4 linked regions of the Homo sapiens genome follow. The protein of the gene in region 1 interacts with the protein of each later gene in a pairwise test. Each region holds a gene or a part of one and is shown on either strand. Other genes may lie near its edges. The genes, in order: KIF9, ZNF436, ALAS1 and IKZF3.

Region 1 (7,871 bases):
TTTTCTGTATTTTTAGTAGAGATGGGGTTTCACCGTGTTAGCCAGGATGGTCTCGATCTCCTGACCTCGTGATCTGCCCACCTCAGCGGATCATTTTATATAAAATTATCTAAGAGAGGTCCAATGGGTGTTACCTGACAAAAGTTATTCCAGATTTTATTTATTTATTATTTTTGAGACATTTATTTCAGACAGAGTCTCGATCTCTCTCTCAGGGTGGAGTGCACTGGTGTGATTTCAGCTCACTGCAGCCTGTCTCCCAGGCTCAAGCAATCCTCCCACCTCAACCTCAACCTCCAGAGTAGTGGTAGGACAGGTGTGTGTCACCACACCCGGCTAACGTTTTGCAATTTTGTAGAGATGGGGTTTCAACATGTTGCCCAGGCTGGTCTCAAACTCCTGGGTTCAAGCAATCCACCCACCTCAGCCTCACACTCAATTTCTAAAGCTTGGGGAACCGGGGAACCACTCTTCACATCCAAGGGCCCATTCTCCTGCCCAGGGAAATTCAGATGCCATCCAGGGTATGCTCCGAAAGGGACCATGAAGAAGCAGGGGAGCTCTGGGAGCAGGTGCCCAGGCCTCTCTCCCTGAAGCCCCTGCACAAGAGTAGCACAGGCCAGTTCAGAGCATCAACCTCAGCTGGGCATGGTGGCTCACGCCTGTAATCCCAGCCTTTGGGAGGCCAATGTGGGAGGATCGCTTGAGGCCAGGAATTAGGAACCAGCTTGGGTAACACAGCAAGACCTTGTCTCTACAAAAAATTTTAAAAATTTGCCAAGTGTGGTGGTGCACGCGTGTGGTCCCAATTTCCCAGGAGGCTGAGGCAGGAGGATCACTTGAGCAGTGATGGCACACCACTGCTCTCCAGCCTGGACAACAGCGTGAGACTGTCTCAACAAAACAAAACAAATAAGCAAAAGCATCACTCTCCCTCCAGAGCCTGGCCCTTCTCTGCCCTGCTATTTGCCAACATGCACATGCACACGCAGTCACCCCATGTATGCTTCCCAAGGCCCTCCCATGCTGACACCATGGCTCCAAGCAGGCCAGGAGCCATATCCACCTGCAATAAAGTCTTCCTTTGCACACCCGTCTTGTGAGCCTGCTACTCAGCAGCCCTTTAACACCCAAACATTTAGGGACCCCATGCCATCTTGCACTTACTGAAATACTGCTTGTTACCATTCTTACGTCGCTTCATTTGAGTGGGTTTCAGTTCCCAAAATTAAATTACAAGCTGCTTGAAGGCAAGGATTGTGCTTTTTATCTCTTTTGAATCCCCTCACAATGTCCAGGGCAGAGCCCAGCACAGAGTAGGTATTCAGGAAATGGCGGTGGTTGGTGATGGTAATGGCTGGAAGTCAGAGGGCAGCTGAATCTTCATATGTGGGTCTATCTTCAGTCACTACTGAGAGAGTCCCAAGGGGCATATGATGTCACTCCCCTTCCATGACAACTCCAACCAAAGCCCACAGCCCTTCCAGGAGGACACTTGGTTTCCAGGTGCAAAAATCCACATCCAGCACCTCACCACACGCTTTTTTTGTTTTTGTTTTTGTTTTTTGTTTATTTGTTTTTGTGACAGGGTCTCACTCTGTCACCTAGGCTGGAGTGCAGTGAAACAATCTCGGTTCACCGTAGCCTCCACATCCTGGGTTCAAGCGATCCTCCCACCTCAGCCCCGCAAGTAGCTAGGACTACAGGCGTGCACCACCACGCCCGGGTAATTTTTGTATTTTTCGTAGAGACAGGGTTTCGCCATGTTGCCCAGGCTGGTCTTGAACTCCTGAGCTCAAGCAATCCGCTCACCTCAGCCTCCCAAAGTGCTAGGATTACAGGCGTGAGCCACGGCGCCCGGCCCCCTCCCTTTCTCCCTCAGGACCTTGTGGGGAATGTCTCTCCTTGGGGAACCACCCTTTGATATTTCTGGTATAACAAAGCAAGTCTCTGAATGGCCACCAGGAGACTTCTGTGTTAAGGCGCTCGAGGTTTCCTCATTTGTCTTTAGTGGGAATGAACAGAATTGGCAACAAGCAGCCATGAAGACTAGACAAGAGGAAAGGGAGCGTTTGGTGGGGTGGAAGGCACCAGGTGGGTCCCTATCTTCCAGTGCTCCCGTCCAGATGAGGGGCTGTCATGGGGAACCCTCATAGCTACCCGTAGCGGCAGCACCAACACCCGAATCCAAAACACTGGGTCCAACTGCACCTGGCCTTGGCTGAACAAGACTAGGATGCAGGCAAAACTAGACTTTCTCCTTTTTCTCACCCAATGTGCCGGACCCCCGCGTGGAGCCTGGGCGGCAGTGGGCTTTGGACCCATTCCGGTCCCTCTCTGGAGAGGTTTCCTCACCTGTAACACGAAGGGCTCCGACTGGTGATCCCAAAGCCCCCTCTAGTTCGAAAACTGACTAGTACGGAAGAGTCCAGACGACCTCTGGCTCCCTGCCTCACGGCCTCTATGTCCTGGACGCGACGTGGGACCCCTTTGTGGGACCAATGAACATTAGCTCCGAAGACCGTAAGCCGCGGTCAGGTTGAAAGGACTCCCGCGACGTCGAGCCCTCCTTCGCCTGGGTTTCAGAGATGAGCGACCCAGCTGGGAACCCCCAGATAAAGCGGTTTTTGGACCCCAGCCACTTTCAGCAGTCCGGGCGCACACCCTTTTCCCGTCTCCCCACTCCCACCGGCGAGCAGCCCCTGCTCACCGTTCACCAGGCAGCGACGCTCCCGGGACGCGACTGCCGCAACCGAAACCACCTGCACTCCCCACGCGGGGCTGCCTGGCTGTGTACATAGTCGCCATGGCAACGGGTCGCTTCCGGGGATTCCGGAAGTGTCGGGGTGGCGGAAATGAAGTCCGAGGTCCTACGTCGAGGATACGGGTGAGGTCATGGCCGAATCGGGAAGACGAGAGATGGGGCCGATTGATCTAGAAAGACTTCGGCGGATGCACATGCGAAGTCAAGGTCGAGATAGCGAGGGAACGAAGGCCGCACATGAACCAGGAAGCGGAGTGGCGGGGCTTCCGGCGCCGAGGAGATTCAACTACGGCGGCCGCGGAGGCCCGTCCGATTGCTGCTCCGCGCTCCGAGCGGCTGTCGGCGTGCGCTATCGCCCCGCCCTGGTTAGTGTCTAGCCGGCCGGCGAGGCCTGCGCAGTTGCAGCGGCCGGGGAAGATGGTGGAGGACGGCGCGGAGGAGCTGGAGGATCTGGTGCACTTCTCCGTGTCTGAGTTGCCTAGTCGCGGCTACGGCGTCATGGAGGAGATCCGGCGGCAGGGCAAGCTGTGCGACGTGACCCTCAAGGTACCGCGGACTGGGCGGCAGCGGGCTGAGGGAAAAGGGGTCGAGCGGGGAGTAAAAAGGGGCGGGGGACAGAGAAAGAGAGGTCTAGCAGGGAGAGGGGTGGGGAGAAGAGGTGTGAGGGGGGCCGAGTAGTGGGGAGAGAGGTGCCGAGCAAAAGGGGATCGGGGCCGAGTGGGGAGAGGAAGAGGACAACCTTTCAGCCCTTGAAAGGAAAGGTTGAGAGGTGCGCCGCTTAGGCCCTTGGAGTGGGAGACACGGGTGACAGCCTCCTTTTTCTGTCATGCAGACAAGAGAAAATGGACTTACCTTCTATGGAGGCAGGGGCGGTGGCCGGCTCCACATGCTGATGGGCACCACTGAAGAACCTTCTCTTGTCACTACAGATATTTCTTTGTGCCTGTCGAACTTGGCTGTGCTGTTCTAGAAGAGAAGGCTTCTCCTTAGGAATCATTGCCCTTAATTGTTGAATTACTACTTTGTCTCTTAAGAGCTTTTAAAATCTTCTCTGGAAAATTTTTGAGGTGGGAAGCCACCCTGCCCCATACTGGAAGGCACCACTCACCACCACAAAGGTCCCCGGGGCTGGGCCTGCTGGCCGCGTGGGGAGAGGGATGCTGACTGATATTAAGAGGGAAAGATATCTTAACCACCTGTTCCCCACCAGCATTCTGGTCGCTAGAGCCAGCCTCCCTCCTGTGCCTGGGTCTTTTCATGAGGAAGAGGCATGCTGTGCTGCTGCCTGGCCAAGCCACCGAACCATGTGGAGACGTCCGGTTGGGGAGATGATCAGTGGGGCTCCCTGTTGGGCTTTAGCTGGAAAGCTCTCAGCATCTGTGCGTGATCCCTGTTTAAAAAACAAACAGGGCAGGCATGGTGGCTCACACCTGTAATCCCAGCACTTTGAGAGGCGAGAGGATCACTTGAGTGGGGGAATTGGAGACCAGCCTGGGCTATGTAGGGAGACCCTGTCTCTACAAATAATAAAAAATTGTCTGGGCATGGTAGCCTGTGCCCGTAGTCCCAGCTACTCAGGAGGGTGAGGTGGGAGGATCGCTTGAGCCTAGGAGGTCAAGCCTGCAGTGAGTTGTAATCACACCACTGCACTCCAGCCTGGGCAACACAGCAAGATCCTATTTCTCCTATTTCTCTCTGTCTCTCTCACACACACACACACACACAAATAAATAAATAAAAGAAAAAATAAAACTATGCAGAGATTCTTTTGCTCTTCTTTTCTTTTTTCTTTTTTTTTTTTTTTTTGAGACGGAGTCTCGTTCTGTTGCCCAGGCTGGAGTGCAGTGGCGCTATCTTGGCTCACTGAAACTCTCTCTCCTGGGTTCAAGCGATTCTCCTGCCTCAGCCTCCCCAGCAGCTGGGACTACAGGCGCGCACCACTACCCCTGGCTAATTTTTTCTATTTTTAGTAGAGACAGGGTTTCACCATGTTGCTCAGGCTGGTCTCGAACTCCTGAGCTTCAGCAGTCTGCCTGTCTCGGCCTCCCAAAGTGCTAGAATTACACGCGTGAGTCACCGCGCCCAGCCTGCTCTTCTTATTTTCTACATGGTTAAGGAAACTTTTCTTCTGCAACATAGTTGAGTCAGACCTCTGGAGATGGTAGAGTAGGATGGTTGAGTATGGCTTTGAAAGCAGAAGGATTTGGATTAAAATCCTAGTTGTAACCTTGAGCAAGTTACTTAATCTCTGTAAGCCTCGGTTTTTTTGCTTTTATTTTTATTTTTTTGAGACAGAGTCTCGCTGTGTGGCACAGGCTGGAGTGCAGTGGCATGATCTTGGCTCACTGCAACCTCCACCTCCTGGCTTCAAGCCAGTCTCCTGCCTTAGCCTCCCAAGTAGCTGGGACTACAGGCGCCCGCCACCACGCCCGGCTAATTTTTGTGTGTGTTTTTAGTAGAGACAGGGTTTCACTACGTTAGCCAGACTGCTCCTGACCTCGTGATCCGCCCACCTCAGCCTCCCAAAGTGCTGGGATTACAGGCGTGAGCCACCAAGCCCGGCCCTTTTCATCATTCTAAACCCCTCCTGAAGGAGGTTGTTTTTCCAGGAGAGGAGTGAAGTGATCTGAGAAGGCGTGAGATCTTCTCATATGGGAAAGAGGAACCAAGAGAATTGAGAAAAAATGAGCTAGACTAAAGGAAGCAGAGGAAGTAAAAGTAAATTAGAAGTTTTTGTCCACAGTGATTACATGGTAGAAGATGTTAAGGCCACTAGAAACTTGTAAGCAGAAAAATGATCCGGTTTTGGCAGCAACACTTGGTGTAAATAGAGACTAGTGAAAAGCAGTAATAGGTGTGAATTTCTAGATTAAAATTTAGGCTGTAGGCTGGGCACCGTGGCTCACGCCTATTATCCCAGCACTTTGGAAGGCCAAGGCGAGTGGATCGCTTGAACCCAGGAGTTTGAGACCAGCCTGGGCAACATGGCAAAACCCCGTCTCTATTGGGGAAAAAAAAAAAAAGATTTAGGCTGTAAGGGTGAACCAGGGGAATCTTACAAGACACAGGGAATCAAAAAGGGCGTGGCAGCGTGGGATGGTCACAGATACTTCTACATAAAGTATTAATAGTACATTTAATGCAGATACTGAATATGGTAATCTTTTAGCAGAATATTGCTTGTTCATTCAAAGGGACAAGTAAATTATCAGACATGGCTGGGTGCAGTGGCTCACGCCTGTAATCCCAGCACTTTGGGAGGCCGAGGCAGGTGGATTGCATTGAACTCAGGAGTTTGAGACCAGCTTGGGCAACGTGGTGAAACCCCATCTCTACAAAAAATTAGCTGTAGTGGTGTGTACCTTTAGTCTTTCTTAGCTGCTCAGGAGGCTGAGGTGGGAGGATCACTTGAGCCTGGGAGGCAGAGGCTGCAGTGAGCCGAGATCGTGCCACTGCACTCCAGCCTGGGCAACAGAGTAAGACCCTGTCTCAAAAAAAAAAAAAAAGAATCAGACGTAGTTTCAACTGAGACGGTCAGCCCGAATTGCTGTGTTAGCTTCAGGGATCTAGAACATAAGGACCAGTATATTTATTTTTTTCTCTCTTTAATAAAAAGCCTTCAGTGGGAAGGACTAGTATAAACGCATGGGCTAGAGCTGGACGGGACTGTAGAGAGCATTTACTTCACTGATTTTGAAAACTTTATTGTAGAGCCCAAGGAGTAGCTCTGTAGCAATATAATGGTGGGACCGGGGAAAGAGCATGCAAACCAGGCTCTGCACATTTCACTACTTGCCACCAGAGCTGTCCTGGGAAATCTATTTTGTCTCTCTTTCTTGTCAAAGTCTTCCTTCAGTTTTCTGGTGACTCCACAGTGTTTTTCAAGTAAACAGACACTGAAAAACTGGTTGGAAGCTTTTGGGTGTGAGATGTTTTCTTGACTGGTGGGCCTCCCTGTCAGGCAGTGGTTCTTAAACTTCAGTGGACGTCAGAATCACCTGGTGGCCTTGTTAAAACGCTGGTTGTTGGACCTCACCCAGAATTTCTGATTCATTAGGTCTGGCATGGATCTGAAAACTCATATTTCTGACAGGTTCCCCTGTGATGCTACTGTTAGTCTGGGACCACGTTCTGAGAGCCATGGTTGTAGGGTGATGGACCTGTCGTTTTTCTGTGGGATGTGTTCAAAGTCCGTAGATCTTCCTCCAGGCTTCTTCCTAGGTGGTATAAGCCTGGCTGTTATTTTGGGAGCCTTATGGTAGGAGAGGTCTGGAGGTTCTCCCTTCTGTATGCAGACTTTCACTTAATCCCCCTAAATGGTACCACTTCCTTGTCTTCTGTGGTGCCCTGGTTACCCAGATCCAGAGGCTCTTGTTCATCCTGTCTGAAGAGTAAACCTCCAGTCTTCTGCAGTTGCTTGTCTGGGGAGGGGGACCAGTACTTCCTGATTTCGGCCCTTCTTCTTGCTCACAACTTCAGAGGAAACTGGTACCTCCAGTGGTTCCATTTTGGAGGGGATTCTTCAGTGGCTTGCCATCCGCAATACTCAGTATCCTCTAAGTCAGTTACTACTCATGTGTCTTCTTTTCTTCTTCTAAAATTTTGTTGACCCTTCTAAAATTTTGTTGACCCTTCTAATGTGCTGTCTCTCTCTGCATCTTTTTCCTTCAGAGCTTTGCTGTTCCTTGATCATCAGTCCGAAAGGCGGTATCACACAGACTCTGCAGCCACACTGCCTACGTTTGAGTTCTGGGTCTGCCACTTGTTAGCTGTGAAAATGAGCAGCTTCCTTAAACACTGGTGATTCTCTGTCTCGTCTGTAAAATGCACATCACCACCTACTTGAGTGTTGAGGATTCAATTAGTTAATGTACTTCAAATAATCATGTAGTAAATGCTCAGTAGTGTGTGTGTGTGTGTGTGTGTGTGTGTATTTTTTTTTCTCTCTTTTTTTTGAGACAGAGTCTTGCTCTGTTGTCCAGGCTGAAGGGCAGTAGCGCAATCTTGGCTCACTGCAACCTCCGCCTCCCAGGTTCAAGCGATTCTCCTGCCTCAGCCTCTTGAGTAGCTGGGATTATAGCTACATACCACCATGCATGGCTAATTT
Region 2 (7,024 bases), on another chromosome or scaffold:
CCAAAAGCAGCAGCAGGAACTGGTTGGGGTGGGGCAAGAACAGTAGGGAAGGAAAAGGGGGTGAAATACAGTTAGGTCATGGAAATGCGGTCATCTATGGCCACTCCCAAGCTGATACCCATAGTGGCTCACAGAAGCAACAGGAGAACTTTGACATTTATTAAAACCATCAGCAACATATATGAGAAAAGACATATTTGAGTTTAGTTACCAAGAACATGTGTCACCCGACAATTAAAATATGGATACCCACAGTCTGCTAGATTTTGTAAATAACAAAAAAACATGCTCCTTGCCTGAGTTTGTCCTTAAAAAGGAGTGGCAACATGAAGGAACCCCCCTGGAAGATGGGTTACTTTAAAGGTTGTGTTATTAACAAGTGATGTGGTCCCACACAGCTGTGGGTCACAATAACTCATTATAGTACCCACCCAGAGAGACCACTGGCTCCTTTAACACCAAGTCCTAAAAAGCTATGGCAAAACATTTTTAAAATGTTACAACATTCACAATAAAGAACAGTAGCAATAAAGCACAGTAGAAATAAACTGGGGGTACTCTCAAAAGAAAAGATATTCCTCACTCCAGTCCCATTTTCTGGGCACCAATTCCCTTCCACCCCAACATGCTTGGATAGCATCAACACTTGAGATATTTCTTAATTCCTACCTGGACTGAGATTAGGAAAACTGACACTACTGGGCTTAAATTGGGCGAACTGTTATTTTAACCTCTTATATCTGTAGGGTGGGAGGATGGAAATACATTCCTACCGAGGTTCGTTAATTCCTTCTGACTAAGCCAAAGAGTTCTTCATTACCATAGAAGATAATTCATTCTGAGAATAGGACAATCGACCTATTTGTCTGGTCATTATCTTCCACAATTGACAAACACATACAAACAAGTGCTTAGCTCTGTACAAAGACAGACCTTACAGGAGAGTGCACACTAAAGCACTAGTGTTTAAATTATTTTCCATAATGAAAAAAGGACATTTCTCACATTGGAGTTATGTCTGTACTTCTGTCACATGACTCACATCACCCAAGAACATGCTAAGTCTCTGTAAATTCAGTTTCTATTAGAAAAACCACAGGAATACACATTACTGTACATACACATGCCCTGATGCAAGCTAAGATAAACACTGGGATGTGGCCCTTATCAAATCTTAGAGTTAGCAGGATAGGAAGAGTTGATCTTAAAGATTAGAAGGGAAAGAACACAGAAACGACCTACATTCCTTGGGAAGGGACTCTGTGGTTCCTTCCCTGAAGGACTCAATTCCACTTGCTCCTTACACTTAACTGTCACTGATGGTCCTATCTTTTCTTGAAGATATTTTCTATACAATATTCCCTATAGTGATCCCCAAAGAAAATTCATAAATCTGATTAATGGCAGTAATAACTGTGGGCATCTTCTGCTAAAGTCACCATCATTGATGGGTCCTTGGTCCCCAAACCTGTGTCTCATTTTTCCTTTCCAACCGTATCTTCAGTTAGCCTTCACAAAGATGCAAGCTTTAAAGGAGCTAATTAGAAACAATGAGAAGGAGAAAAGTTACAATCATTGCCTTCATCGTGCAAAATCTTGCCCTCAGGAAGATGGAAAAGATACAAATGCATGAGCAACTCAAGGAAAAAGCCCTTTGGAAGGGAAGATGTGTGTGCCCAACTACTATGGTGTGTGAATAGGTGTGGCAATTTAGGCAGAGTCTCTAGTTGCCTTTTTCCAAAGCAGCCATTACCACCCTATTACAGTCCCACGTTTCACTTAGCATAGTTCCTTGGGCCAAGGATGGGAGAAAATAACATTGAAAGATTTACTCCATTTCCAGGCCTAAGCATTCACCAGCATTTGTCCCCTGGTCTTCAGATTTCCAGTTACTTGTGGGGCTGCTTTTAATGAAGTAACCCATTGAGTGAATAAAAATCACCATTTTGGAGGAGATAACATTCCCAAAGCTGAGGGTCAGAATTTCAAATGGCTTGTCATCTCTGATGGTTTAAATCGTGGCCCACAACTAGGAGAGTATGATAAAAGCAGCTCAGTCTTGAGGGCGTTCATTGATATCAAATAAAATTGTATCTTCAAATGAATCATTTCTCAGCCATCATAATTACAGCTTAGTCCGTATGAACTCTCTTATGTTTAATAAGAGCTGAGCTCCTGCTGAAACTCTTCTCACATTCGGTACATTCATAAGGTTTCTCTCCCGTGTGAACTCTTTGATGTGTGATGAGGTTGGAGCTCTGGGTGAAACCTTTCCCACACTGCACACACTCGTAGGGCTTCTCCCCTGTGTGGGTTCTCTGATGTTTAATTAGATCTGACCTTTCACCAAAGCTTCGCCAACACTCATTACACTCATAAGGCTTCTCTCCAGTGTGAATTTTCTGGTGTGTGATGAGATGAGAGCTCCGGCTGAAGCTTTTCCCACAAGCATTGCATTCATATGGCTTCTCTCCAGTGTGAGTTCTCTGGTGCTGAACCAAGTGTGAGATGCGGCTGAAATTTTCCCCACATTCGTTACAGTGGTATGGCTTCTCTCCCGTGTGGGCTCTGCGATGACGCACAAGGTCGGAGTTCTGACTGAAATTCTTCCCACACTCATCACACTTGTAGGGCCTCTCCCCTGTGTGGACTCGATAGTGTTTGATGAGATCAGATCTCTCACTGAAGCCTCGGCCACATTCGTTACATTCATAAGGTTTCTCACCCGTGTGGGTCCTCTGGTGCTGAGCTAGGTGAGAGCTCCGGCTGAAGCTTTTCCCACACTCCTCACACTCATAGGGTTTCTCACCACTGTGGGTCCTTTGGTGTTGGATTAGGTGAGAGAGACGGCAGAAACTTTTTCCACACTCATTACATTTGTGAGGCTTCTCTCCAGTGTGGATTGTCTGATGCTGAATCAGGTGAGAACTTCTTCCAAAACTTTTCCCACACTCGTTACAGTCATAAGGCCTCTCCCCAGTATGTGTTCTTTGATGCTGAATAAGGTGTGAGCTGCGACTGAAGCCTTTTCCACATTCATAACATTTATAGGGTCTGTCTCCAGTGTGGGTCTTCTGATGTCGATTAAGGTCTGAGATCTGACTGAAGGCCTTTCCACAATGAGAACATATATGATAGCGGATGCCTGTGTGGACTTCTTTGTGGACAAGTAGATCAGTGACTGGTTGGAGAGGATAGCTTACCCACTCTTCTGCTGTTAAATCTCCCCATTGTCTTTCTGACCTATCTCCGCTTTCAAAGCCCTCTTCACTTTCAGGATTTTCCTCAGCATTCTCAGCAGGTCTTTCAGATGTAGTCCCAAATTGTACATCTTCACTAATCTCTTGCTTGGGATTTACCTCGTTCTCACTCCTGATCTCAAAATCTGTAATAAAAAGTAAACAATAAGACTAGTAAGTACAAAAATTACCTATTGTGTGCCAGGCACTATACTAAATTTTTTTTTTTTTTAGACAGAGTCTCACTGTGTTGCCTTGGCTGGAGTGCAGTGGTGTGATCTTGGCTCACTGCAACCTCTGCCTCCTGGGTTCAAGCAATTCTCCTGTCTCAGCCTCCTGAGTAGCTGGGACTACAGGTGCACGCCACCATGCCCGGCTAATTTTTTTATTTTTAGTAGACACAGGGTTTCACTATATTGGTCAGGCTGGTATTGAACTTCTGAGCCACTGTGGCCAGCCTAAATTATTTATATTCTTCGTCACATATATTCTTTATCACAGCTATTCTGAGAGTCAGGAATTGTGATTATTTCTACTTCATTAATGAGAAATCCAAGACCCAGACAAGTGAATTGACTTGCTCAAGGCCATAGTAAATGGTAGAGCCAGTATTCAAACTCAGGTCTGTCAAAATTCACATTCTGTATCGCTGTAATTAATGATTCATTAAGAAAACTATACAGGCCAGGTGCCGTGGCTCACGCATGTAATCCTAACACTTTAGGAGGCCAAGTCAGGAGGAACACTTAAGGCCAGGAGTTCAAGACCAGCCTGGGCAATATAGGGAGAACCCATCTCTACAAAAAAATTTAAAAAATTAGGTGGATGTGGTGGCATGCAACTGTAGTCCCAGCTACTCAGGAGGCTGAGGTAAGAGGATCACTTGAGCCCAGGAGTTCAAGGCTGCAATAAGCTGTGATTGTGCCACCGCACACCAATATGGGTGACAGAACGAGACCCTGTCTCTTAAAAAAAAAACTATATATATTCGTGTTTTGAAAGAACACTGGAAGCAGAAAATATGAGACTCTAAATTAGAATATCTAAAAGGCAAGATTCTAGGTATTTTGTGAGTATGTATTTTTTAACTTGCCAAGCCTTCATCATTAGTAGCATCATAAAATATTTACTAAGAAGCCACTATGTTTTTGTTTGTTTGTTTGTTTTGTTTTGTTTTTTGAGATGGAATTTCACTCTTGTTGCCCAGGCCGGAGTGCAATGGCGCAATCTCCGCTCACTGTAACCTCTGCCTCCTGGGTTCAAGCGATTCTCCTGCCTCATCTTTCCGAGTAGCTGGGATTACAGGTGCCCGCCACCACATCCAGCTATTTTCTTGTATTTTTAGTAGAGACAGGTTTTACCATGTTGGCCAGGCGGGTCTTGAACTCCTGATCTCAGGTGATCTGCCCGCCTCAGCCTCCCAAACTGCTAGGATTACAGGCGTGAGCCACCGTGCCTGGCCAGAACCAACTATGTTAATATGGAGAAAAATGAATCTTTACCTATGTCATAGTTGACAGAAAAGTGACTGACAAATGTCACTTCCTACTTTTCAGTGACCTTTTAATGAAAATAGGAGTGGGAAAGTTGAAGAAGGCAAAAAAGATGTCTGGCTGAGAACATTCTTGGCATTGTCTAAGTATATTTCACATGCAGTCTTCAAATGAAAATCAAAATACACAACCACTGTCTACAAGGAGTTTTATACCAGACACTGCATTCTCCAAATTGGGTTTCTTAGTACACTCTTCAGAAAGAAAGTATGTATTTTGGGAGAAAAGGGTTCATGGATAAACTGGGTTGGTAAATGGTACATACAATATCATTTCCTTCAAAATTCACAATGCCTAATAACACATTAAAGGTTCTAAGGAATCCTGAGGTAAAAAGGCCTTATAAGGCCAGATGCAGTAGCTCAGGCCTCTAATCCCAGCACTTTGGGAGGCTGATGCAGGAGGATCACTTGAGCCTAGGAGTTTGAGACCAGCCTGTGCAACATAGGGAGGTCTCACTTCTATTAAAAATAAAAAGAGGCAGGCCGGGCGCGGTGGCTCACGTCTATAATCCCAGCACTTTGGGAGGCCGAGGTGGGCAGATCACGAGGTCAGGAGATCGAGACCATCCTGGCTAACACGGTGAAACCCCATCTCTAAAAAAAAAAAACGCAAAAACTAGCCGAGTGTGGTGGCGGGCACCTGTAGTCCCAGCTACTCAGGAGGCTAAGGCAGGAGAATGGCGTGAACCTGGGAGGCAGAGCTTGCAGTGAGCTGAGATCGCGCCACTGCACTCCAGCCTGGGCAACAGAGCAAGACTCCATCTCACAAAAAAATAAATAAATAATAAAAAAATAAAAAGAAGCTGAGCATGGTGCCTGACACCTGTATTCCTAGCACTTTGGGAGGCCGAGGTGGGCGGATCACTTGAGGTCAGGAGTTCAAGACCAGCCTGACCAACATGGTGAAACCCCGTCTCCACTAAAAATACAAAAATTAGCTGAGCGTGGTGGCATGCACCTGTAATCACAGCTAGTCGGGAGGCTGAGGCAGGAGAATTGCTTGAACTCAGGAGGCAGAGGTTGCAGTGAGCCAAGATTGGGCCACTGCACTCCAGTCTGGGCAACAGACTGAGACTCTGTTTCAAAAAAATTAATTAATTAATTAATTAATTTAAAATTTTTTAAAAAATAAAAAGAATTAGCCGGGCAAGGTGGTACGCATCTGTGATCCCAGCTACTCAGGAAGCTGAGATGGGAGGATGACCTGGGCCTGGGAAGTCAAGGCTGCAATGAGTTGTGATCGTGCCACTGCACTCCAGCCTGGGCAACAGAACAAGATCCTGTCTCAAAAAAAAAAAAAAAAAAGCCTTGTAATCATTTTTAAACCCATTCCCATTCCCAAACTTATTTGGGCAAGAAACCAGTTTTTTGGCGCTTTCATCCTTCTAACAAGTGCTTTTGGGGCTAAACTGTAGAATTGTAAATTCACATTTTTTAAAGATTGTCATTTTTTGCTTTTGTTGGATTCAGTGGAATATTTGGGTTACAGACTGCAATAGATCTGGATAGATAACTATTTATGGTTACTTTTATAAAGAAAGGATTCAAGAAACTAGGGACATCAGAGAAAGCTCAAGTTAAAAAGGAAAGCCCTCAGAGTTGCCTTTTGTTCTGAAAAAGGCTATGGGAATAAAGATTTCAAAAACAGGATTAATCCTAATGAATGGCAAATGACCTAGTGACCCATACACGCTTGCTAATGTCTGTCAAGTCTTGACAGGAGGCAAAGTGAGGCAAAGTGAGTCAAAAGACCGTTCAGCTCAAGAATATACTCTTTATTCTAGTTACACCCAGACCAAAGTACAGCAAAGAGAGAAGACAGGCTTGCAGACCATGAAAAAAAAATCAGCTGCCCTCTCTAATAGAATTTGTGATCTATTTCAGCATTCTTCTGGAACAGCATTTGACACACTACAAATCTATCATCATCAACACTGAAACATCTCTAGATGAGAATCTACTCAGCTAAGGAACTTGAGGCAAAGCTAGGGCTCTGAAGCCAAAACAAACACAAAAAGGTGGCTTTCGCCCTCCCATGAACCTGGGTTAGAATCCCCTCATCTTTTAGCACCCTAGAGTAAAAGCACTAGTTACGGGGCATTTATATTCTGGCAAGCACTATTATGCCAGACCTGTTTGGTCAGTGATCTGTACAAACAGGCTGGAGATTGGAAAATGACTCAGGGCACAAGAAATCTGAACGTCTAAGACGTGCAGAAGCAGTTTTTTT
Region 3 (7,024 bases), 4.9 Mb from region 1:
GTGGACCTCATCCACGAAGGTGATTGCTCCAAACTCATGGGCCACATCACACAGCTCTTCCAGTGGGCACACCGCCCCTGAGGAAAGACCAGAGACTGCTCTGAAGAGCTTTTGCCGCTTCAGAAATTTCTGTTTTGGTTAGAGTCAGAACAACGTAAACTTCTATTCTAAGGTATCATTTTCAATATTGGAAAGAAAATGAACTTCCTCTAATTTCTAGGTTACCTGGGGTCCCAGAGCCTAGTAAAAGCCAGAATAGAAAATCCACTTTCACCCAAATCTATTAGAAAAAAGTCCACCAATTACAAATCTTGGCAGAATGCAATACTACACAGCAATAAAAAAAGAATGAGACCATGTCCTTTACAGCAATACGGATGGAGCTAGAGGCCATCCTAAGTGAATTAATACAGGAACGGAAAAACCAAATATCGCTCTCACTTATAAGTGGGAGCTAAACACTGAGAACACATGGACACAAAGAAGGGAACAACAGACACCAGGGACCGACTTGAGGGTGGAGGGTGGGAGGAGGGTGAGATCAAAAACTACCATTGGGTACTATGCTTACTACCTAGGTGATGAAATAATTGGTACACCAACACCCTGTGACACATAATTTACCCATATAATAAACCCGCACATGTACCCACTGAACCTAAAAGTTGGAAGAAGAAAAAAAAAAATCCTGGCAGAAAGGAAAAGAAAATTAAAAAACACAACAGGCCAGGCGCGGTGGCTCACGCCTGTAATCCCAGCACTTTGGGACGCCAAGGTGGGCGGATCACAAGGTCAGGAGATTGAGACCATCCTGACTAACACAGTGAAACCCCGTCTACTAAAAATACAAAAAGTTAGGCCAGGTGCGGTGGCTCACACCTGTAATTCCAGCTCTTTGGGAGGCTGAGGCGGGCAGATCACAAGGTCAGTAGATCGAGACCATCCTAGCTAACATGGTGAAACCCTGTCTCTACTAAAAATACAAAAAATTAGCTGGGCGTGGTGGCAGGCGCCTGTAGTCCCAGCTACTCAGGAGGCTGAGGCAGGAGAATGGCGTGAACCCAGGAAGTGGAGCTTGCAGTGAGCCGAGATCACGCCACTGCACTCCAGCCTGGGTGACAGAGGGAGACTCCGTCTCAAAAAAAAAAAAAAAAAAAATTAGCCAGGCGTGGTGGCAGGTGTCTGTAGTCCCAGCTACTCGGGAGGCTGAGGCAGGAGAATGACGTGAACCCGGGAGGCGGAGCTTGCAGTGAGTCGAGATCGCACCACTGCACTCCTGCCTGGGCAACAGAGCGAGGATCGGTCACAAAAAAAAAAAATTAAAAAACACAACAAAACACCATACTTTTAAAGAGTTCAGGCATAGTTTTTCATCTTAGGTTTCAGAGGAACCTCTATCCACACTTACCATCCATTGAATGGACAGTTTCAAATGCCACAATCTTGGGGACTGAGGGGTCAGATCTTTGCAGCAGTTCTCTGAGGTGGCTGACATCATTGTGGCGGAAGATGTACTTTGGCACTCGGCTGTTTCGAATCCCTTGGATCATGGAGGCATGGTTCCCAGAATCAGAGTAAATCTCACAGCCTAAGACAACAAAAATGCTATTTATTGCCATGTGCATCGAAGACAAATTATTTCCTAGAGAAAGACAACAGACTTTTCCTTGGAAATGATGCTTTGAAAATGCCTAGTAGGAAAAAGACACTGTGTGCCAGTTTCTTCCTGGCAAAATAACTAGTTAGTGCTTCCCTTGTGAGAAGGCCCAAAGGTGTAGAATAACCTTGTGGCAGGCCATTAATCTGCTCTTAAATCTGACTGCCTCACTCCAAACTCAATCAAGAGCTAACTAAATGATTAAGAGACTTCTCCAAAGGATCATCTTAGAATACAAAACATATTTGAGGCAATTAGCTCAAGGATGAGACGTTTCAAGTTTGAATTTTCACTGGTATCACGTTCTCCTGGAACCCATAATGTACAGTCAGCATTTCATGCTTGACCCCAGAACAAATGCCCAGATAGGATTATGATTTTCAATTGAGAGGTTCTGGTAAGGCTTCTTTGTTGCCAATATTCTTGTTATTACTAAGAAACCCAAAAAACTCGAAGGCACTCATGCCAGGCTTCCTTACCTGGCATCATCTTAGCCAGGGTGAAGAGGGTTGAGTCATTGGCCACAAAGCACGAGGAAAACAAGAGTGCGGCATCTTTCCCATGGAGGTCTGCCAGCTCCCGCTCTAAGTCCACATGGAATTTACTAGTTCCAGAAATATTTCTAGTACCACCTGCCCCAGCACCATGTTGTTTCAAAGTGTCCCTGTTTAAAAATACAAACAAAACCAGAAAATAAAGCTCATGGTTCTCAACACCATGTGAATTTTTTCCCCTTTCTAGGATCCAGGAGACTGAAACATGTTGATGTAGCAACTCTCTCACTGTGAAACCTGGGGTCAGAAATTTCAACTGATTTCATCTTCAGACTAGGTGGGAGAAGGTGTCAATGCTAGGGTGATGATACCTCCAGGAATCATCAAGAACAAGTGTTCATTTAACAGTCAGTAAGTGCTTGGTATTAGCTGAGTTTCTTTTCTAAGAAACTAAGGTTTATTTTCTGAGAAACATTATTCTTTCCAATAACATGTTAGCTTAAGAAAAAGCAAACTCTAGAGGGACATCCTGGATGGTGGTTACCCTCTGCAAGCCAGTCATGTAATGTTTGGATATATCACTATCATTAAACCTCAAACCGGGACCCTCTTTAGCAAGCCTTTGGAGAATCTGGCCAGCAACTCTCTCCAGCATCCCTAGGATGGTGAGCCTCCTGAAGGACGAGTGATGGGATCTACCATCCTTTTTAACATGTCTTTTGGAGTAGCTTTTTCTCTAGCGCTGCTAGATTCGTATTTCTCCACTCACAGCCACAACCAAGGATGTCTCTGTGAAAGACTGCCTGGTGTTAAAGGCACACTCACTTGCAGAGTGATAGAAAGTGGACTGACGTGTGTGGTCATTGAGCCTATAAGCTTGAACCCTCACAAGTTAAGGGGCTCCAGCAGCTACCTGCATATTAGAGTTCCTTTAAAAGTAATCTGTAGATATTTTTCAGAAGCTAAGAATAGTATTTTGCTATGGCACACTTTCAGCTACTGAATGTTCCCTCCATAAAAGATCCAACCCCTATACATCATCATTGGCTTGCCAAATAACAACAGTAATATTTGAAAGCCAAGGGCTACTTACATAACTGCCCCACACACCCGTGGGTGGCGACTCATTCCTAGGTAGTCATTACTGCACCAGACTGACACTTGCTTTTTGGTGATGAGGGAGTCTGAATAGTCATCTGCCATGGGGAAGATGTGTGCTCGCCGGTTCACAGTTTTAAAAACTCGATAGGTGTGGTCATTCTTTTTCTCATCAATTTTTTTCTCAAAGAAACGATCATACTGAAAAGTGGAAACAGCTAAAAATTGAACAAAAGACAGTACAGAATGGTGGTTGTGAAACACAGCTGCATTTTGGTGAAATACAACAAGTCTCAGCTTGGCAACTGAGGGAGATCCTGGGCAGGTTATTTGATGTCCTCATCTTGTAAGTAAATAAGACTGTATGTCGTGTTTGGCTCAGTGCCATGTGTAGACGGTAAGTATTAAAGGACAGAAGGCAGGCTACCAACAGCACCTGTAGTCACCACAACCAAAAGCACCTGCTCACGCAAGCAAGGGATATGGCTTTCAAGCCTCAACTCACCATACATTTTTTTGTTTTTCCTAGAAACTGAGTCTCTGTCTGTCATTCAGGCTGGAGTGCAATAGCGTGATCATAGCTCACTGAACCTTGAAGTCTTGGGCTTAAGCAATCTTCCTACCTTAGCCTCCTGAGTAGCTGGGACTATAGATGCAAGCCATCATGCCTGGCTAATTAAAAAAACTGTTTTGGTAGAGATAGTGTCTTGCTATGTTGCCAAGGCTGGCCTCAAACTCCTGGCCTCAAGTGATCTTCTCCCGCTTCAGCCTCCCAAAGTGCTGGGATTACAGGTATGAGCTACTGTGCCCAGCCTCACCATGCAATTTTATATTTAATCTAATGTACATTTGAATTATAAATTCTTTTCTACATCAGGCAAATAACAATGAGACTTACATTTTGGCAAGTTATCTTGAAGAAGATGAGACACTCTTTCTGGTCTTTGCTTTTGCATGATGTCCTGGAAGTTCTTCAGCAGTCCACTGGGATCCCCTCCATCGGTTTTCACACTAACCACACTGGGGCCTGCTGAGGTTTCAGCAACCTCTGGAACAAAAGTAACAAGAAACAAATGGGACCAACTTTCTATTCTGAGTTCACAATATCTTCCAAACATATTGTCAAAAATGGCTTATGGCCTAGTTCACAAAAAAGGCCAAGCATAACCAAAGTTAGTTATAACTGAGTGTACAAAGCATCTCTTCTATTTTAGTTACTGTAATGGCAGACTCTTGGTGTTGTTTTCAGAGCTACTGGCCAGCTTTAATGAACAATAAAGTCCAAAGCTTTCTTGCTGGTTGGCATGTCTTATTCACTCCACTACATCCCCACCCCAATCCTAATCTCAATTTTCTGTTTTTTTTTTTTTGAGACAGAGTCCCATTCTGTCACCCAGGCTGGAGAGCAGTGGCACGATCTCGACTCATTGCAACCTCTGCCTCCTGGGTTCAAGCGATCCTCCCTCCTCAACCTCCTGAGAAGATGGGACTATAGGCATGCGCCATCATGCCCAGCTAATCTTTGTATTTTTGGTAGGGATGGGGTTTCCCCATGTTGGCCTGGCTGGTCTTAAACTCCTGGCCTCAAGTGATCCACCTGCCTCGGCCTCCCAAAGTGCTGGGATTATAGGTGTGAGCCACTGGGCCTGGTCCTAATCTCAATTTTCTTCATAGAAAACAATTTTGGCCATATGCATAATTTCTGCTGGTTAGGCTTTTGGGGAGCCTTGAGTTCTCTGCAGATATAGCCACACCTATATATTGTGGAGTTAAGGTTGCAATTCAATGACCATCAGTAAGACACACGGCTTGGGAGCCCTAGGACCAGCACTTACTGCAGTAAAACCATTATTTTCTATCTTTATCCTAGCAGATGATGGGAAAGACCAAAGGGACAAAAGGCAGCTGGTGGCAGCTCAAGACTGCAGGTTATTTTCAGAAATTAAGTAGTAACTATAAAAGCTGGTCACATCCCACACACGCACCAGAAAGAAAGTCCCACTTTCGCAATACAGTCCCTTGACTGTCTATCTTGAAGACCTTCCTCTCTGGCCCTAAAAGAGGAAGGTGTTTCCATAAATACTGCCCTAATAATAGCTCATACACAAATCTGAGGGCCCAAAAGAACTAAAAGGACCCCTTCACTACCACTAATGGTTCACAACTCATCTCTTACCTTTCCTCACGGCATTCATTTCCTGCACATCCTCCTGAAGCTCAAGACTGGCTTTGCAGAAGACACTGCTGCCTCTCTGATTCATCTGTGCTGCCAGGAAAGGGCATTTGCTTGCAGTGCCCTGGCTTGTGGCAGGCAAGGGGTGTCCAGACGGAAGCTGTGTGCCATCTGGACTCTGCTGGGATCCATCAGGAGTCTGTTGGACCTTGGCCTTAGCAGTTTTGTCTTCTGAGGGAGGAAATGGAAAAAGTGAAGCATCAGATCTGGTTGCACAGTATGTAAGAAAACCACTTATTTCTTTCTTTTATTGCCTCAAAGATAAACTTAATACTTACTGTACCCCACCATCCAGACACAAGTGTTTTTTTTGTTTTGTTTTGTTTTTAAGATGGAGTCTTGCTCTGTACCCCAGGTTGGAGTACAGTGGCACAATCTTGGCTCACTACAACCTCCACCTCCTGGGTTCAAGTGATTCTCATGCCTCAGCCTCCCAAGTAGCTGGGGTTACAGGTGTGTGCCACCATGCCTGGCTAATTTGTGTATTTTTAGTAGAGATGGGGTTTCACCATGTTGTCCAGGCTGGTCTTGAACTCCTGACCTCAGGTTATCCACCTGCCTTGGCCTCCCAAAGTGCTGGGATTATAGGCGTGAACCACTGCACTCAGCCACAAGCTTATTTTTATTAGGTTCTGCTAATCTCTCTAGTTTTTCATCTGCTTCACAGGAAACAATGCGTCTATGAAGAGTTAACTGGCACATTCCAGTTGCCTCTTAAACCCACAGTATTTCTCGTCATAAATCCAAAAAAAGTACCATTTTCTAGTTTTAGACAACCCGGAATCCTTGAGTTGGATCATTTCCAGTAATTTCTACCCCAACTACACTCAGCTTATTTTATGAGAGGACACACTCTGTAAGGTAACGGGAAATATTCACACACATTTTTTTCTCTGCTAACATTTTCCTTTCCTTTTTTTTTGAAACAGGATCTCACTCTGTCAACCAGGCTAGAGTGCATGGTGCAATCATAGCTAACTGCAGCTTTGACCTCCAGGCTCAAGTGATCCTCTCACCTTAGCTCTCCAAGTAGCTTGGACTGCAGGTGTTCTACTGCGCCCAGCTAATTCTTTTTATTTTTTATTTTTTGTAGAGACGGAGTCTTGTTATGTGGCCCTAGCTTCTATCAAACTCCTAGGCTCAAGCAGTCCTCCCGCCTCAGCCTCCCAAAGTGCTGGAATTACAGGCATGAGCCACCACATCCTGTCTCTGCTGACATTTTCTAAACAGATTCTTGACAAAGAGGCTTGCTGTTGCTTAACATAAAAGCTATTGGTTTTCATCTAAACAACAGAAATTAGACTAAGACTTAGGTCTTTAGATTGCTAATAAAGTAAGAAAAAATAGGGGTATATCACATTCACATACCTCATCTACTTTCTCATCTAAATTCATCAAAGTCTGCTGACTAAACACCGTTGGCTGGTAATTATCCTTCTAGCTACAGTGACTTCCCTCTCCCCTTGAGCAAATTCATTCACCTTCTTTCTAGAAAAGTCTTTCTTCATCATTCTGGAACACTCCTGTGAGTCACTGGCTAGC
Region 4 (7,024 bases), on another chromosome or scaffold:
TTCAGAACAAGAATGACAGATTGAAACCTTCCTACTTAACTCTTTCTAGTTTCCACACTGGGCTCTGAGGAATGCACTTCCTAGACAAGGAATGCTCATTTCTCTCACTTACCAGAATGTGTCCTAAGATGCCCCGTGAGCGCATCTCTTCTTTGGCATGCATAGTTGCAGAGGTGACACTTAAAAGGTTTTTCCCCTGTGTGCAGTTTAATGTGGCGGAGGAGGTTACCTTTCTGAGTAAAAGATGCCCCACACTGATTACACTGGAATGGGCGTTCACCTTTAAAAAGGACAAAAAAGGAGATTTCTGGTCACAGGCAAGTGGAGAAACATATGCACAGATTAGATGCCTAGGGGAAAAGCTCATCTTTTAGACAATTACTGTTCACATTGGGATCAGTTGGGAGCTGCATTTCAAGGCAAGCCTAAGACTTACTTATGAAATCTCCTCTGTAGAAGAGAAAAAGCACCCACTAGCAAGGCTATTTTAGGTATCATATTGAATCAGAGCAAAGAAACAAGAGCAGCTCTAGAAGTGCTTTCTAGATCTAAGTTTTTATATTACTATATTACTTGGTACTCCCTTTTTTTTTTTTTTTTTTTTTTAGACAGGGTCTTCTTGCTCTGTTGCTCAGGCTGGAGTGCAATGGTCCCATCATGGCTCACTGAAACCTTGACCTCCTGGGTTCAAGTGAGCCTGTCACCTCAGCCTTCAGAATAGCTGGGACTACCAGTGTTTGCCATTATGCCTGGCTAATTTTTTAGTATTCCTTTTGAATATAATCTCCTTTGAAAAAAGAGCCAGAAACTAAAGTCCTTACAAGGTGTTGAGGGCTAGAAATTCTCCTTTTTAAAGTCTTCATATGAGATATGGGATGGAATCGACTGGCTCAAGTGCGATGGTTGTGTTTGTATGCATTTCTATAGACTACCTGTTTATTGTCTGAAGATACATTATTTTAAGCTGGAAATAAAAACTATGTCCTTTCATTTACCAAATTTGAACCCAATACAATAAGAAGATCTGCTCTTATTAAAAATGTTATGCAAAAATATACAAAAGATGGCTAAGAAGCAAATCACACAATTCAACTCCTACTTAGAAACTGAAGAAAAAGTATTTGGCTGACCTAGAACACTGTGCTCTCTACAGTCTTTTTTTATTCATAGCATTTGCAATATGTTTGCCAAATGCATGGTGAGGCAGGAATAAAAAGCACTGAGTGAACAGCAATGCAGAGAGAGAGATACATCAGCATTATAGCAAAAATCAATGAAAGTAACCAAAAGTTCCAAATTCCACCACTTCATTTCTCACGTGGCTGCATTAGGAGAGTTTTCAGAAGAATGAAAAAAGCAGACTATTTACCAGTATGGCTTCGCTTATGAACCATTAAGACATTGAAGCTGATGCAGGATAATCCACACACATCGCAGTTCATCTTTCCACTGGTTGGCCTGCTACTATCGAATGAGACAACATGTCTCTCCAACTTAATGTTTTCATATTCATTATATTCTCTTGAATAGCTGTAAGGGATTTCAGGCTCTTCTGCATTTCCCATGGGTTCTGACTTTAAAACATTCTCATCTCTTTCACTGTATTCATCTTTCACTTTCATTGAATCATCTGCAGGGAAGAAAATGCAAGAAATGAACAACGACTATACTTGAAGCTATCAAAGCAGCTCAAACAGCAGAGACCCACAACTGACAATTAAATACCAATCGAAGCTAACAAAACACTGTACATCTACAAAACAAGAAAGCACCATTAGCGTGACCGCACGTTATTTAAATTCAGAACCACAGTCAGAGGAAAACACACATACTTACACACATAAAAATAGACGATAGTGTTTTAGGCTATCCAGAAAATTACAGATAATAGATTTTAGCTAAGTTTGCTCAAAGTGGCCATGAAACAAACATTGAGCAACTCTTCTCCAGTACTAGGGGAGAGGAAGGGTTCTCAGATCTAGTACTGTTTTTGGTGGCTGCAGTTAAAAAGGCAAGGTGATGTACTCTTAGGTTTCAAGGAGAAAATATTGTTTGAATCCTTCAGATGCATCCAGTGTAAGCCATTAAGATTAAGAGTTGACTAGTTAACATAGTTTTTCTAATTTTAAGCCATGCATTGCCTCTTCCCCTTCCACGTATATGAATTGCTAAAACACATCTTATCTCTGTCTCTCTTGGAGCTGATAAAGGCACAACATTGACTGTAGAGGAAGTTGTCAGTACTAATGAAAAAGTGTTGAGAAAGACAAAAGGAAAAGTAATTCTTTCATATAACCTAAGGAGTCACTTTCATCGACACAGGTAAGTGGGGCTCAATCTAAATAAGGGGAAGGACCATTAGGTCCCAAGTTAGGGAGAACTAAACTCAAGGACTCAAGGATTGTGTAATAGGACTGGATAGGAGAGGAGGGACTGGCTCAAGTGAGTTGGCTGACCAAGTACTATCTTAAGAACTGCAATGTAAATGAATGAAATTTAAAAGAAGAGCTGTAATACTCTTCATGAAGAGCATAAGAACATATGAAGAACGTGGGAAAAATATGAAGAACATAAGAAACAAAGAAGGCAAATTTATGTACTTGCACTGACACTAGTAAAACCTAAAAATTTGCCTGATGTAAGAATAATAAACATTTGTAAGGGATTTTGCATATATAAAATATGCTATATAAATGCTTACTTTTTCAACCATTGGTCCTTAGAAATCAAAAGTTGTACCTCCCCATGAGGAATCACAAATCAATGGAGTGTAGGGCTGGAAGGGAATTTAAAGGTCATCTAATCCAACCCTCTTGTTTCTCAGATGAGGAAATCTGGGAGCAGAGATGTTTTTGGTCATTTGTCGAAGGTTACACATCCAGTTACTGGCAGAGGTGTGATTAGAATGCAAAACTTAAGCTTGAACTATCAATTACTTGGATTTGACCTCATGCACTAGACATATAAGGCCTAAGTGGGTTCTTACCAACTGTATTACACACCCTCCCATCAATGGTGTAAATGTTAAAACCCAAAACAGTCTGAAAAAAGATATTTTAAAAAACTACATCCCTTCCAAAAAACATCAGTAAGTGTTGCTCCTCTTGCTGCATAGGAGGAAGTACAACTGCAGCTGTGCCTGGCTTGCTACCTTCAACCCAAGTTTCAATTTTCACTTCTATCAAGGTTACCTTTCATCTATATTAACTGTGTTTGCTTAATAGAGCAAGACAGGGCCTAACCACCATCAGAGGAGCCAGGGCTGCCACACAGTTCCACTGCTTCCTACCACAGTTCATGGTTCACAACTTTTCACTCTTTGACTAGCAAAGATGTAGGGCTGTAGGATAAGTCCAACATGTTTCAAATTTGCCCACCCTATGGATCTGGATTATATAAGAAATGATATCTGTTTCCTACTTGGAAAGAGGTTTACTTCTTTCTCTGGATAGGTCTTCCCTGCTTTCAAGTGGAATTTGTTTGCTTAAGTGTTTATTTTTTATTTTTTTAAGAGAAGGATGCACCTGAGGCTTGTACTTGCCTCCCTTCCTCCATCACTCCAGCTGTGGGTAATATCCCACCAAAGCTTGAGTGCTCTTCAGTTTGCATGTAGGCGTTTAAAAGAACCTCAACGGAAAATTTCAGCTACTTAAAACCAAAAACAGCAGATAGAAAAGGCCAGCAGAAAAGGATCCTTTCCATTTTGGTTAGAAAATGTGAACATGACCAGACTCAGGCCACTCCATGGTCACTGAACTTTAAAATGTAGTAAGATCAATGTGTTGAGTCTTTCTGAAAACAGAGGACATAAGAGAGCTGCTCCTTTCCCTCAGGATTTTGGCTTTAGTTGGCCTGACCTGGAATTCAATACGACACCATCCTGGCTCAAGAGCAGATCTTAGCTTTAGTCCTTTAGGAGTCAGCTATAGAGCAAGGAAGACAGTATTTGAGACCCAGGGACATAAGGACACAGGGACAGGGCATTAGAGAAGTCCTTTGGGCTTACATAGTTGCTGGTTTGCCTTTGGAGTCTTACCAGTTTTAGATGAATGACCTGGATGACCTCTCTGCATGGTTACTGGGGATTAGCAACTTATTTTTATTTTATTCTATTTTATTTTTTGAGACATAGTCTTGCTCTGTTGCCCAGCCTGGAGTGTAGTGGCACGATCAGCTCACTGCCACCTCTGCTTCCCAGGTTCAAGTGATTCTCCTGCCTCAGCCTCCCGAGTAGCTGGGATTACAGGCATGCACCACAATGCCTGGCTGATTTTTGTGTTTTTAGTAAAGACGGGGTTTCGCCATGTTGGCCAGGCTGGTCTCGAACTCCTGACCTCAAGTGATCCACCCTCCTTGGCCTCCCAAAGTGCTGGGATTACAGGCCTGAGCCACCGTGTCCAACCAGATTCTAATTTATTCTAATATTCAACTCTGTTACCTTCTCAAGGTAAGCCATAATAAATTGCTGGCTGGGCATAGTGGCTCATGCCTGTAATCTCAGCACTTTGGGAGGCCAAGGCAGGTGGATCACTTGAGGTCAGGAGTTTGAGACCAGCCTGGTCAACATAGCAAAACCCCGTCTCCACTAAAAATATAGAAAATTAGCTGGGCATGGTGGCTCCCAGCTACTGGGGAGGCTGAGGCAGGATAATCGCTTCAACCTGGGAGGTGGAGGTTGCAGTGACCCGAGATCGTACCACTGCACTCCAGCCTGGGCGACAGAGCGAGACGCCATCTCAAAAAAGATAAAATAAAATAAAATAAATTAGAATTTAAGGTATGAATGAGATTCCTGAGAGATATTAGGCTTAGTACTCAGCCTCCAAACACAGTCCACCAAAACCAGGAAAGGCATTAGCCTGCTCTAATGAAGAGATTCATCCCATTCCCTGGAAGACTTATTGAAGCAGAGAAAAGGGGTGTTCTACTTAGAAAAATTCTATTAGAAAATACTAATGAACATGTCTAAAATCAAACTTGTCATCTTTGAACCCAAACTTGCTTCTAATTTATGACTTATTTATGTTGACAAATGGCATCACCCTTCTTCCAGTCTCCAAGCCATCAAACTGTGGAACCTTTTCTCTTTCAATTTCTACATCAAGTCAGTCTCCAAGATCTATCAACTCTATGTCTTCAGGCTCTCTAGGTGCCAACTCCTCTTTTCCTTTCCTTTTGCAATTTGGTTTCACCTTTCATCACATCATACCTAAATTCATCCTCTCTCAACATTCCTTTCTTTTTTTTTTTTTTTTGAGTCAGAGTCTCACTCTGTTGCCCAGGCTGGAGAGCAGTGGTGTGATCTCGGCTCACTGCAACCTCTGCCTCCCTGGTTCAAGCGATTCTCCTGCCTCAGCCTCCTGAGTAGCTGGGATTACAGGTGCCCACCACCACACCTGGCTATTTTTTTAATTTTTTTTTTTTAGTAGAGACGGGGTTTCACCATCTTGGCCAGGCTGGTCTTGAACTCCTGACCTCGTGATCCACCCACCTCGGCCTCCCAAACTGCTGGGATTACAGGAGTGAGCCACTGCGCTCGGCCTCAACATTCCTTTCTAGACAGATTTAAGACACAGGTGGTCCAGGAGCGGTGGCTCACACCTGTAATTCCAGCACTTTGGGAGGCCGAGGCGGGTGGATCATGAGGTCAGGAGATCGAGACCATCCTGACTAACATGGTGAAACCCCATCTCTACTAAAAATACAAAAAAATTAGCCAGGCGTGGTGGTGTGCGCCTATAGTCCCAGCTACTCAAGAGGCTGAGGCAGGAGAATCGCTTGAACCTGGGAAGTGGAGGTTGCAGTGAGCTGAGATCCCACCACTGCACTCCAGCTTGGGTGACAAAGTGAGACTCCGTCTCAAGAAAAAAAAAAAAAGACATAGGTAAGCTATGCTTACTGCCTCTACAGCCTCAAAAAGGACTCAGAATTCTCTGTAATATGGCTTCCGCCTCCACAATTCACTTAATCTGCTCCCTTGAATATCACCAACCATAATCTCCTGATTCCTAGATTCAGAGCCTTTTTGTATGCCACTCTCTCCAACTTCTTTGTAATCCTCAACACTACTGACCACTCACCATTCCTTGTTCTTCTGCACTCCTATGTCTTTTCTTTCTTTCTTTTTTTTTTTTTTTGAGACAGAGTCTCACTCTGTTGCCCAGGCTAGAGTACAGTGGTGCGATCTCGGCTCACTGCAACCTCTGCTTCCCAGGTCCAAGCGATTCTCCTGCCTCAGCCTCCCGAGTAGCTGGGACTATAGGCACGTGCCACCACACCTGGCTAATTTCTGTATTTTTAGTAGAGACAGGGTTTTACCATGTTGGCCAGGCTGGTCTCGAACTCCTGACTTCAGGTGATCCACCTGTCTTGGCCTCCCAAAGTGTTGGGATTACAGGCATGAGCCACCGTGCCCGGCCCCTGCACTCCTATTTCTTCAATGAAAATGTACCTTCTTTCCTTGCCTTTCTGATTGCTTCCTTCTTGCCCCTTTTCTTCCCTCTGCATCCTAAATACTGTCCTTAACCTTCTTTTTTCTTCCCTCTACACCCCTCTTGTATGGCAATTTCATTCATTCTTAAGGCTTCGACTAACATCTTATATGATTAATTTCCATATATATAACTCCAGGTGTAACCTCTCTCCCTTTCTTTAGTCCTCTATTTCTGAAGGCTTCCTAGGTATCTTCCCAGTTACTCAGGCTAGAATCCTTAGAGTCATCTTTCCTTTCTCCTGATTGGGCCCCACATTCAATCATTCAGTGGTTCTATCTGTGTATCCAATCTCTAATCTGTTTCTCCACTCCTGTATTTTGCATGCCCATTACCTAATTCTCAGACCCTATGACTTTCCCACGATCTACTTATTGCTGTAGCCCCCGCACTGTTCTCTTTGGCTCCCTTCTTTCTCCTTTCCAGCCCGTCTTGTTTGTTGCTACAAGATTGCTCTTCCTAAATTCTACCTCTGGTCATGTCATAGCCCTGTCAAAATTCTTCAATATTTTCCACTGCCAACAAAATAAAGT

What was found.
Region 2: the proteins of KIF9 (region 1) and ZNF436 interact in binary tests that used the Homo sapiens proteins (3 or more experiments, as listed by UniProt).
Region 3: the proteins of KIF9 (region 1) and ALAS1 interact in binary tests that used the Homo sapiens proteins (3 or more experiments, as listed by UniProt).
Region 4: the proteins of KIF9 (region 1) and IKZF3 interact in binary tests that used the Homo sapiens proteins (3 or more experiments, as listed by UniProt).

The regions. Positions count from the first base shown.
Region 1 is NC_000003.12:47,279,785-47,287,655, forward strand, and holds the start of KIF9 (kinesin-like protein KIF9), read right to left. Parts: upstream 3,016-7,871; 5' UTR 2,809-3,015; coding exon of another isoform or gene 2,711-2,808; exon of another isoform or gene 2,356-2,710; intron 1,412-2,355; exon of another isoform or gene 1,205-1,411; coding exon of another isoform or gene 1,168-1,204; intron 1-1,167. Other genes in the region: KLHL18 (kelch-like protein 18), read left to right, coding at 3,182-3,310. UniProt on the Homo sapiens protein: Essential for normal male fertility and for progressive motility of spermatozoa.
Region 2 is NC_000001.11:23,359,837-23,366,860, forward strand, and holds part of ZNF436 (zinc finger protein 436), read right to left. Parts: intron 3,386-7,024; coding exon 2,133-3,385; 3' UTR 1-2,132. UniProt on the Homo sapiens protein: May be a transcriptional repressor.
Region 3 is NC_000003.12:52,201,136-52,208,159, reverse strand, and holds part of ALAS1 (5-aminolevulinate synthase, non-specific, mitochondrial isoform 1 precursor), read right to left. Parts: intron 5,654-7,024; coding exon 5,426-5,653; intron 4,298-5,425; coding exon 4,148-4,297; intron 3,468-4,147; coding exon 3,245-3,467; intron 2,322-3,244; coding exon 2,137-2,321; intron 1,589-2,136; coding exon 1,409-1,588; intron 78-1,408; coding exon 1-77.
Region 4 is NC_000017.11:39,791,304-39,798,327, forward strand, and holds part of IKZF3 (zinc finger protein Aiolos), read right to left. Parts: intron 1,631-7,024; coding exon 1,370-1,630; intron 281-1,369; coding exon 113-280; intron 1-112. UniProt on the Homo sapiens protein: Transcription factor that plays an important role in the regulation of lymphocyte differentiation. Plays an essential role in regulation of B-cell differentiation, proliferation and maturation to an effector state.